Linked DNA regions of Homo sapiens. The protein of the gene in region 1 purifies or fractionates together with the protein of each later gene. This does not show direct contact. Each region holds a gene or a part of one and is shown in the gene's direction. Other genes may lie near its edges. The genes, in order: C6orf141, ZNF318 and KRABD3.

Region 1 (3,578 bases):
TTTCTTTTTTTTTTTGACAGATTCTTGCTCTAACACCCACACTAGAGAGCAGTGGTATGATCTTGGCTCACTGCAACCTCCCCCTCTCCCGTTCAAGCGATTTGGTGCCTCAGCATCCCAAGTAGCTGGGATTACTTACATGTGTGTACCACCATGCCTGACTAATTTTTGTACTTTTTGTAGAGACTGGGTTTCACCATGCTGACCAGGCTGGTCTCAAACTCCTGGCATCAAGTGATCCACCGGCCTCAGACTTCCAAAATGATGGGGCTACAGGTGTGAACCACCACACCCAGCCATCAGTGGGTTTTTTAATAAAACAAACAGCTAAGGATGAACTGGAAACCACAAACTGAGCTCTTTTTCTATGACCTAGCCTCCCCGGTTAACCTTAGGCAAAGAGTAGTGGTCAGCGGGCCTGCCTATGGGTAAATTCTAAAAGCCTCGCCAGAGACACTTAACTTTTTTTAACCCCTGTGGTTAAAGAGGACGGGTGGGTGCAGAGGGAATTTTATAAACGACACAAACACAAACAATTTTAAGTCCTGAAAAAATTCATTTGGATGTTTGTTTTGCTTCTGTTTTATAGCTTGTTTTAAATCAAAGACTACACCTTCCTGAGACAAGCGTTGATTACACACAAAATGAAGACTGGCCAGGGCCGTGGCTCAAGCCTGTAATCCCAGAATTTTGGGAGGCCCAGGTGGGTGTGTGGGTAGGGTGGGGGATCCTGGGTATCTCGTAAGCCCAGGAGTTCCAGACCAGCCTGGGCAATATAGGAGAGCCCCACCCCTACCATCTCTTAGAAAAATATAAATAAATAAATAAATAAATAAATAAATAAATAAATAAATAAAAGCCGGGCATGGGGGTGCGCGCCTGTAGTCCCGGCTACTTGACGGGCTGAGGTGGGAGCCTGGAAAGTCGAGGCTGCGCCACTGCACTCTATCCTGAGCTACAGAGCGAGACCATATCTAATGTGGGGGGGTGGGGTAAGAGGAAGGGGGAGCGGGGAGAGGGAGAGAGAAAGAGAGCGGGAAAAAAGAAGGAGGAGGAAGAGGAGGAGGAGGACACAGGTGTGACCATTGTCCTCCAGAGCTACAGATTCTGGCATTCTAAAGGAAGAAGGACAAAGAAACCAAAACCAGTTTCTCCAAGGCTTCAGCTTTTCAGTCTGACCATTTGATCTACATTCCATTATTTTGGCAGCATGGTGGGAGTGGATTCGGAATGGACAAAAACCCTTTTCAGAATTAGATCAGCTAATTAAAATGCACACAAACTTCTTTGTTCCTTCACCTCAAGGAGCGTCCTTGGAAAGCAAACATACTTCGGGGCATTTCAGTGGGGGCGCAGTGCGAGGGTGTCCTTTGCGCCTCAGCTCCGGAGAAAAACGAAAGGTGGGTGGGAAACTAGGATAGAGGTGAAAAGTAAGAGGGGACTGAATCAGCGAATGACAAAGGGAGCAGGGCTCCGGACAGGGGTAGGAGGAAGAAGAGGAGTGACTGGGGCTTGTGTCAAGCTTCTTCTGAATGGCTAGACAGCCGCCAGGTGGGAGAGGCGGAGGGTGAAGAGGCGGGTTCCGCACGCGGTTAGCCTGGGGCTGATCTAGTCTTCAGCTTTCACCGGCTGGGAGTCCGGAGCTGCAGCAGAGGCCACACCCAGGGCTTGGTGGTCCCGCGCTTTCCGGAGCTCAGCAGGCGCTTGCTGCTTGAACCGGTCAAAGAAGGAACGAATGAATGACCCTTTTGCCAGGATGGAGACCCGGGGGCCTCAGGGAGCTGCGAATCCCATGGACTCCTCCCGCAGCCTGGGGGACCTCGGGCCTTTTCCGCGGGAGGTAGGGCGCGGGGCTCCGCTAGCTCCGGGCGCCCGGAATCCCGCGACGGCAGGGGCGAGCCGAAGCCAGGGCGGCGGCCACGAGGACAGAACGGCAGATCGGGCCCTCGGACCTCGGGCCGGGGAGGAATTGGACCGTGAGTCCTGGGTCAGAGAGAAAGTGCTCTTTCTCCTGCACCCAGAGAGGTGGTTAGGGACTCGAGGGGACCCTGCACGGGAAGAGGTGGCCGGTGCAGAGGACCTTCCTCATGCGGGTGGAGAGGACCACGGCGAGGAGCCCAACTACCCTTCTGTCTTTCAACGACAAAAGCGAATTTCTGGCAGGCGTGTAGCCCCGCCGCGGGACGCAGCAGACCCACCCAAATACGTGCTTGTGCGGGTGGAGGATTATCAGGTAACACAAGAAGTGTTGCAGACCTCCTGGGCCAAGGGTCGCATGACCACGAGGACTGAGGAGCACTTCGTGACCGCGCTCACTTTTCGCAGCAGTAGAGAGGGACAGCCTGGGGAACGCTGGGGCCCTGCTGAATCCCGGGCTCTCCAGGCACGAACAGGGGCATCCCGCGTCCACGCCGCGGGGAGGAGGGTTTCACCGTCTCCAGGGACTTGGCTCGAGGAAATTAAACTCTAATGAGTAGCTCGAGAAATGTTCCGGGATGGTGGATGAGCGATCATCCTTAAAAGAAAATGCTATTCTGGGAGCTCCAACCTGCAATTAACCTACAGAAGGAACCTTTTGAGAGGCTGGTGCAGCGCTTCGGGGAGGCAGATTAAGAACTGTAAGCAGCATAATACCTCCTTTGTGGCTTGAATTCCTTCGCTGTCTGGGGACCTAAGTCATTCAGAAGAGGTGGAGAAAAGATATTTTCAGATTGGCAGAATGTGGGAGTTTTGAAATGAGAAAACCTGTTGTTAATTTGCATTTTGGAATAACTCTCAATTGATCTCTTTTCTGTTCCCCGCCCCCCTCTTGTTTCTCTTTAGGACCTAGAAACAGAAGTGAAGTTTGAAGTCTGCTCTCTGCAAAGAGGGTGGGAGTGGGTGGAGAAGAGGCTTGTTTTAAAAGCCAAAAACAGAAAGTAAAAAGAAATGGGAAAGTAAAACCAAAGCAGCAAGTGACTCTCTTCTGATGTGCACTTTTCATTTTTCTCCCCCACATTTCAGTGTTAGAAAGAAAACGAGAGGAGCTAGGGAAAGAAGGAGTTGGGGACAGAAGACTAAGATTTCAACGTGAAATTCCATTTACAAAGGCTTTACTGCAAACAATAGCTAATTTAGTCCTGTAAACATGCATTTATCATACATTTTAATTTTAATATTAAAAATACTGCATGTAAATGTTCTGAACTAAAGGTAGATAGCAATATGTAGTTTGCCATAAAATGAATGCATGTCTTATTCTTTTCCATAGTTCTTCATTAATGAGACTTGTAGTCAAGAATAGATTGAAGATACCATTCTCCTTGTGTAGTTCAAAAAAATCTCCTCTGGTAATACTGAAACAACTAATTTTTCTTATTTTGTTTGTTCCTCTTTATTATTAAATACTATGTGAATTAACTCTTTAGTAGTTGGCCTGGTTGAAGCTCTGTGAGGAGCAAAGCAGCCCTCTCCAGGTGAACTGCTTGACTTTACCACCTGAAGGAGTATTTACTGCAAGAATTAACAAAGCAGGTAGGACTCTGGCTTTTGATGAGCAAATAGTTGAAAAGTGCCTCCTTCCCCAGTCTTCCCTTTTG
Region 2 (3,650 bases), 6.2 Mb from region 1:
CCTCCCTTTTATCCATACTTGTATCTCACCTGTTAATTCAGGAAGACCAAAGTATTTAAGTATTTATCTCAATTACTAATGTTCTGAGATTCTGCATAAGACTAAATCAGTTGTGTTTGTCTTTGCAGCTTGAGAGTTTTTCCAGCAGTACCAGCTCCAGCCAGGATCACCCTCTCTACTCTGGGCACCCATCCCTTCCACTAAGTGGTGCTATTGCTGCTTTTGCCTCAGAGATTGAAAACAAGGGGACTATGGTAGAGACTGCCTTGAAGGAACCTCAGGGCAACCTCTACCAATGGGGTCCCCTTCCTGGGATTCCCAAAGACAACAGTCCTCTCAGAGAAAAATTTGGAAGTTTTCTATGCCACAAGGATAATTTGGATTTGAAGGCTGAGGGACCTGAGCGACACACAGACTTCCTGCTGCCCCATGAGAGAGCTAGCCAGGATGGCAGTGGTTTTTCCCGCATTCTGAGCATGTTGGCTGATTCTACCAGTACACAGGAAAAAAGGCGACGTAGCTTTCCCGACATTGAAGATGAGGAGAAATTTCTCTATGGGGATGAAGAAGAGGATTTAAAGGCAGAATCCGTACCAAAGCCCCTTGGGAGCTCTGAGAGTGAAGTTATGAGGCAGAAGGCAAGCTCCCTGCCGTCTTCAGCTCCAGCTGTAAAGCTAGAATCACTAGAAGAGACCAATCCAGAATATGCGAAGATCCATGACTTGCTCAAGACAATAGGGCTGGATATTGGAGTAGCAGAGATTAGTCAATTGGCTGCACGCACCCAGGAACGACTTCATGGCAAGAAGCCATCATTACGCTCCTCAGCTGACCGCCGTTCCTCAGTTGACCGATACTTTTCAGCTGACCACTGTTCCTCAGTTGACCACCGCTTCTCAGCTGACCGCTGTTCCTCAGTTGACCACTGCTTCTCAGCTGATCGACGTTCCTCAGATCCCCACAGACTAGAGAGCAGGGAGGCACATCATAGCAATACCCACTCTCCAGAGGTGTCCCATCCACACCCACCTTCTCCTGTGGATCCTTACCTGCTCACAAAAAACAGCCCTCCATTCCTAAAGTCTGACCATCCAGTGGGTCATATTTCAGGACCAGAGGTGGTTGGTAGTGGGTTTCAGTCATCTGTTGCAGTCAGGTGCATGTTGCCATCAGCCCCATCTGCCCCAATTAGACTTCCACACACTGCTGCTTTATCTCAGTTTCACATGCCAAGGGCCTCTCAGTTTGCTGCAGCTCGGATACCTCCGAACTACCAGGGACCTGCCATTCCCCCTGCCTCTTTTGATGCCTATAGGCACTACATGGCATATGCAGCCTCCAGATGGCCCATGTATCCCACCTCTCAACCGTCAAACCACCCTGTACCTGAACCACACAGGATAATGCCAATAACCAAACAAGCTACTCGTAGCCGTCCCAATCTTCGTGTGATCCCCACTGTGACTCCTGATAAGCCTAAGCAGAAAGAGTCTCTGCGAGGCTCAATTCCTGCGGCCCAAGTGCCTGTCCAGGTGTCCATTCCATCACTCATAAGATATAATCCAGAGAAGATCTCTGATGAGAAGAACCGTGCTTCCCAGAAGCAAAAGGTGAATATTAGCTTTGGGTATCCTGTGCCTGAGTTTTCTGTTTTGCCATAAATTTGTATATGTTTTTTAGAAGGGGCTGAAAATTTGTAAGGCTCTTTCACTTGAAGTCGTCTGGAGGCTGCTGTCATCATCCTAAGAAGTGTATATTGTTCCTCTGTTTTTCACACATGTTTTATCATTAGGACTAAACAAAAGTCTGGCCTTGGGTCCTATTGTGATTGTCAGCCTTTTTTAAGTTTAATTCTATCCAAGTTAATGGTCTTCAAACACTGTAGATAGGAACTGGGAGCCTTGAAGTCTTCAATATGATTTCGTAGTGGAGTAGGGAACCAAAATTGGGTGTGGTGAAGGAGAATCAGTAAACCTGTTTGATCCCAGTGAATTCTGTATTCTTACCCTGTAATGATTATGAGTTAAAGTTAATAACTAGTTGTTGCTTGATAATTGAAGCAAACCAAGAAATAAACTTTGCTTGTTCTGGTTTATCTTAGAGTCCAGGAGTAACAGTAACATTTTTGACATGTTATTTATTTAAAAAATTACGTGTGTGTGTGTGTGTATGTGTGTGTATGTATACGTATATTTTATATAGAGATGGAGTCTTCTCACTGTTGCCCAGGCTGATCTTGAACTCTTGGGCTCAAGTGATCCTCCCCTGCCAGCCTCTCCCAGAGTGCTGGGATCACAGGCATGAGCCACTGTGCCTGGCCTCTAAAGTCATTTTTTATATTATCCAGGTTCATTGGGTCCCCAGCCTGTGGGAAGAAAGCAGTGACTGGGGTAAAGATATAATAATTCTAATAATTCTGATAATTTAGAGCAGTAGGTGAAAACTACATCAAGATAGGGAATACATAATAGAAGAATTTTGAGTGGAAGAGTTAATACATACTATTAATTGTAAAGGTGCTTATACCTAGCAACTCACTTTGTTTAGAAACATAAAAATGTAATGTGTCTAATTTGGTTTGCTCATAAAAGTTAAGACCTGGCTGGGCGTGGTGGCTCATGCCTGTAATCCCAGCACTTTGGGAGGCTGAGGCGGGTGGATCACGAGGTCAGAAGATCAAGACCATCCTGGCTAACACGGTGAAACCCTGTCTCTACTAAAAATACAAAAAATTAGCCGGGTGTGGTGGCACGCGCCTGTAGTCCCAGCTACTCAGGAGGCTGTGGCAGGAGAATTGCTTGAACCTAGGAGATGGAGGTTGCAGTGAGCTGAGATCATGCCACTGCACACCAGCCTGGGCAACAGAGCAAGATTCCATCTCAAAAAAAAAAAAAAAAGTTCTGAAGAAAAAAATTAGAGGGCCAGTCTCATTTTTTTCCGGTTAAAAAGTTTTAGCCAATTATTGGGAAGACAAAAAACACTTCTCTTAAGTTTCTATTGGACTTAAATACCCTGAACTTCAATCTTTAGTTTTACTGAAGTCTTTTGGGAAAGGGAATAGGTTCAATGTAGACAAAACTTTAGAGACAGTGTTTGGAGGTCATACACTTCCTCTTTATTTTCCTTTTATAAATCTAGTCCTTAAGTCAGGGCGCTGATAATACATAGGTCTATTATAGACACATACAGGCCTATTATATGCTGGTATAGTATAGACAAGCCATATTTGCTTTTTTTCATTAGGTAGTAGTATAGTTGAAAGATCATGAGCTTTAGGGCAGATATACCTGGATTGTAAATCTACTCTTAATGTGTGACTTTGAGTATTCTACTTAATCTTGTACAACTTCAGTTTTCTGACTATAAAATAGTGAAAATGTGAGGATTAAACAACATGCTACTCTGGGCATACTGCCTATGGGTTATCCCTGGTTTGCAAGGAGCAGTGAAAATAAACAACATGAAATATGTCCCTTACCTATAACACATATGGTTCCTTTATCTATGGTTCCCTTTGGAACTTAGAACCACTATCTAATAGTTGCTATCAGTGCCCTAGATCCTTCCTGCAAAAAACAAACAAACAACCTTTCTGGACAGTATAGTTTTTGAAAAGATGGACAGTTCTATTCTGGAACTTAGAACGAAAT
Region 3 (3,650 bases), on another chromosome or scaffold:
CACCCACCACCATGCCTGGCTAATTTTTGTATTTTATTAGAGATGGGGTTTCACCATGTTGGCCAGGCTGGTCTTGAACTCCTGACCTCAGGTGATCCACCCACCTGGGCCTCCCAAAGTGCTGGGATTACAGGCGTGAACCATCACACCCAGCCTGGGACAGTTTTTAGAATCACTGACTTGGGTGGGTGCAGGGGCTCACGCCTGTAATCCTAGCACTTTGGGAGACCAATGTGGGAGAACCACTTGAGCCCAGGAGTTCAAGACTGGCCTGGGCAACATAGTAAGGTCCTGTCTTTTTTAATTAATTAATTAAAATAACTGCCCTGAGCAGATGAAACAAGCGGTGAATTGTCTTTGCTTTATTAGGGGCGTGTTCATTTTCTTTAATAATTTGTTCTCACAAATAAACAGTTTAACATTCATTTCTCAACAGGAAGGACCCTTCCCATAATTTACCTTCTGTTTGCTTAATTTGCACAGTTAATTTTTGCCATAATTTTAAATTCAAGCCTATTGATGCTGGTCATTTTCTAGTGTCTGATGGCCACTTTAAAGTCCACTGAAGGACTTTTTTTTTTTTTTTTTTTTTTTGAGATGGAGTCTCGCCATATTGCCCAGACTGGAGTGCAATGGCGTGATCTCGGCTCACTGCAACCTCTGCCTTCCGAGGTCAAGCAATTCTCCTGCCTCAGCCTCCTGAGTAGCTGAGATTACAGGCGCCCACCACCACACCTAATTTTTGCATTTTTAGTAGAGACAAGGTTTCACCATATTGGCCAGCCTGGTCTCGAACTCCTGATCTCAGGTGATCTGTCTGCCTTGGCCCCCCGAAGTGCTGGGATTACAGGCGTGAGCCACCACACCCAGCCGAAGGATTATTTTGTAAAGAAACATAGACAAAAATGCTCGTGTTATTTTAAAAAGCCACAGGGTAGGAGGAGATGAGTACAGAGAATAGGAGATAGGAGTACAGGGTGTAAAGGAGCCTGGTGACCCAAAGCTTCCAAGGGCAACCCCAGGTTTCTTCTGAGCACTTCTCTAAACCCAGCACACAAACTAGGTGGACAGCAAGAATGTCTTCTCTCACAGCCCTGCAGACCCGAAGCCCTACGTCACAGTGTGGGCAGGCCACACTCCCTCTGAAGGCTCTGGGCCAGGATCCTTCTTGCCTCTTGTGGCTTCTGGTGGCCCTGGGCATTCCTTGGCTTGTGGCTGCATGACTGTAGTCTCTGCCTGTCTTCACACAGCTTTCTTCTTTTGTGTCTGTCTCTGTGTCTCTTCTGATAAGGAATGAGTCATACTGGACTAAGGGTCCCCCCTACTTAGGAGTATGACCTCATCTTAAGTAATTCCATCTGCAGGGACTCTGTTTCTAAATAAGGTCCTACTTACAGGCGTGAGGGTTAGGACTTCAGCGTGTCTCTGCAGAGACACAGCTCACCCCCAGCACTGTCTCTTGAGGGGATTCCTGCATGTCAGACCCTGGCTATTATCCTGGAGTGTGCGCCTGGAGGCCTAGGTGGGGTTACCAAGTGCAGGGACAGCTAGGCTGTCCCCTCTGGGATGGAACAACCAACCCCCCCGGAGACTGTGCCTGCAGGTGTCCATCACCTTCAAGGACTTGGCCGTGCGGTTCTCGGAGGAGGAGTGGCGGCTCCTGGAGGAGGGGCAGAGGGAGTTCTACCGAGACGTGATGCGGGAGAACTACGAGACGCTGGTCTCTGTGGGTAAGGACGGGAGGGAGCAGCACGTGTGGCAGGAGCCTGGTGGGCGGTGGAAGGGAGGCCGGAGTCCCTGGACCCGGCAGCCTTAGTCTTTCCACCTGAGAAATGAACACGGGGATCGTTCACGCTGCTGCTATTCTATGTCCCGGGACCGGGTTCTAGGTACAATTCGGTGGGGGTATGCGGCGGCCTCTGAGGTTCCGACCACTCTGCGGTTCTTTGAGTTTAAGTGGTCACATGAATGTGCACAGACCTGCAGGGGCCTGGGCTGCTATGCAACTGTGTGCGAAGCGGAGACCACTCCATTCCCAGGGCCACAGTTCCCTCTTCTTTCCCAGGGACAGCTGAGCTGCTCCCCCTCTCTGCTTTCCTGTCACCCTCAGAGCCTGGAAGAGCTGTTGGGGGAGGGAGCCACGCTGATGAGGGGCAGGAGCCTGCTGGTTGTGGAGATCCCCAGGGTAAGTTATCTGTCAGACTTTGGGTGTCTCCTCCCACTCATCGGTCCTCAGCCCCAGGCAATGCGTGACCTCAGCCTACTCAGTCCAGCCTCTCACCTCCCTGCCTCCCCTACTGCAACCTCCCAAGCTTTCACCCCTCATCCCTCTGGGCTGGAAGCCTGTTATGCAGAGAAGCACTCAGAGAAAGCCTGGGGTCACCCTGGAGAGTACCTCCTGCCTCAGGCCCCCCACCCACCACCACCCTGAAGCCTTATCACAGCCACCCCTGCAGAACCTGCTCCAGCTCCCAAAAGTCCTGCCACGAGGCTTACATCCCAAGACCTCAGATGGTGGATGTGCTCCACCGGCCCAGACTGGGCAAGGCCAGGCATTTAGGGGGTGCCAGGAAAGGCAGAGGGCCCAGATGGTGGAAGAAGTGTAGCGGCAGCCCGCCTGGGCATTCCCCTGGGAGGCATGGAGATTAATGAGTAACGTAGAACAGAGGAGCCCTGTTACCCAGGCCCCGCCCCCATGCCCTGGCTGTCCCTTGGCCAGAGCGCCTGGCCTGAGCCCAGGTCCTCTATATCTCATGGGACATGGTGTCTCCTCTGGCTGCTCCTCATGTGGCTGGGAGGATTACGTGAGATGCTGGGTGTGAAAACACGCACGTAGGTGTGAGTGCTGAGCAGCCGCAGGGGTGCGGGGGGGTCACTGTGGCCTCTCTGCAGGGGGACAGCCCCGGCACAGCCTGCACCTCACAGCCCTGGTGCAGCTGGTGAAGGAGATCCCAGAGTTCTTGTTTGGAGAAGTCAAGGGCGCTATGGACAGCCCCGAGAGCGAGAGCCGGGGAGCCAGCCTGGATGGAGAGAGAGCGAGCCCCGAGGGTAAGTCAGACAGTGGGGCAGTGCACGCAGCCTCCTCTGCACTCCGCATGATGAAGCACAAGTCCACGGCACTGCACTGCATGTGGGCTTGCAGGCACAGGCCGGGAGGCAGAGTCACCTGCTGTTCCTCGTGGCTAGGCCGTGTGCCGCCCTCTGAGCACATGCCCATAGCTGGCGAGAGGGCAGCTCTGACTTTCGCATGGTGGTTTCTGTGTGGCTTTGTCACCCTCCACCCACCATGGCCCCATTCAGAGCCCAGTGATGACAACACATAGGTGGCTGACATCCTGGTCATTGTTAGTACATGGCAAGGAAAGGACCCAGAATGTGACAGTGTGACAATGTTAGGGGCATCTTACCAGTTGTTGATTCTCCCTCTTTCCCGACAGCAGCTGCGGCAAGAGAGCCCTGCCCTCTCCGAGGCCTGCTCAGCTGCCTTCCAGACGGCCCTACCAGCCAGCCCCACCTGGCCACCACGCCCACCGACAGCTCGTGTTCCAGTGGCCCAACTGGTGACGGGGTCCAGGGAAGTCCTCTCCCCATCAGTGAGTCTGACACAGCAGGGACAGGGAGAACCAGCATTTCAAAAGCCCTGATCGTGG

Evidence for each region.
Region 2: the proteins of C6orf141 (region 1) and ZNF318 purify together in Homo sapiens (affinity purification with mass spectrometry; 2 studies listed by BioGRID and IntAct, with this or other methods). This does not show direct contact.
Region 3: the proteins of C6orf141 (region 1) and KRABD3 purify together in Homo sapiens (affinity purification with mass spectrometry; 2 studies listed by BioGRID and IntAct, with this or other methods). This does not show direct contact.

Annotation. Positions count from the first base shown.
Region 1 is NC_000006.12:49,549,058-49,552,635, forward strand, and holds C6orf141 (uncharacterized protein C6orf141), read left to right. Parts: upstream 1-1,610; 5' UTR 1,611-1,735; coding exon 1,736-2,470; 3' UTR 2,471-3,038; downstream 3,039-3,578.
Region 2 is NC_000006.12:43,352,624-43,356,273, reverse strand, and holds part of ZNF318 (zinc finger protein 318), read left to right. Parts: intron 1-128; coding exon 129-1,610; intron 1,611-3,650.
Region 3 is NC_000007.14:149,717,943-149,721,592, forward strand, and holds part of KRABD3 (protein KRBA1), read left to right. Parts: intron 1-1,526; exon of another isoform or gene 1,527-1,603; coding exon 1,604-1,730; intron 1,731-2,065; coding exon 2,066-2,185; intron 2,186-2,892; coding exon 2,893-3,048; intron 3,049-3,437; coding exon of another isoform or gene 3,438-3,440; coding exon 3,441-3,593; coding exon of another isoform or gene 3,594-3,650.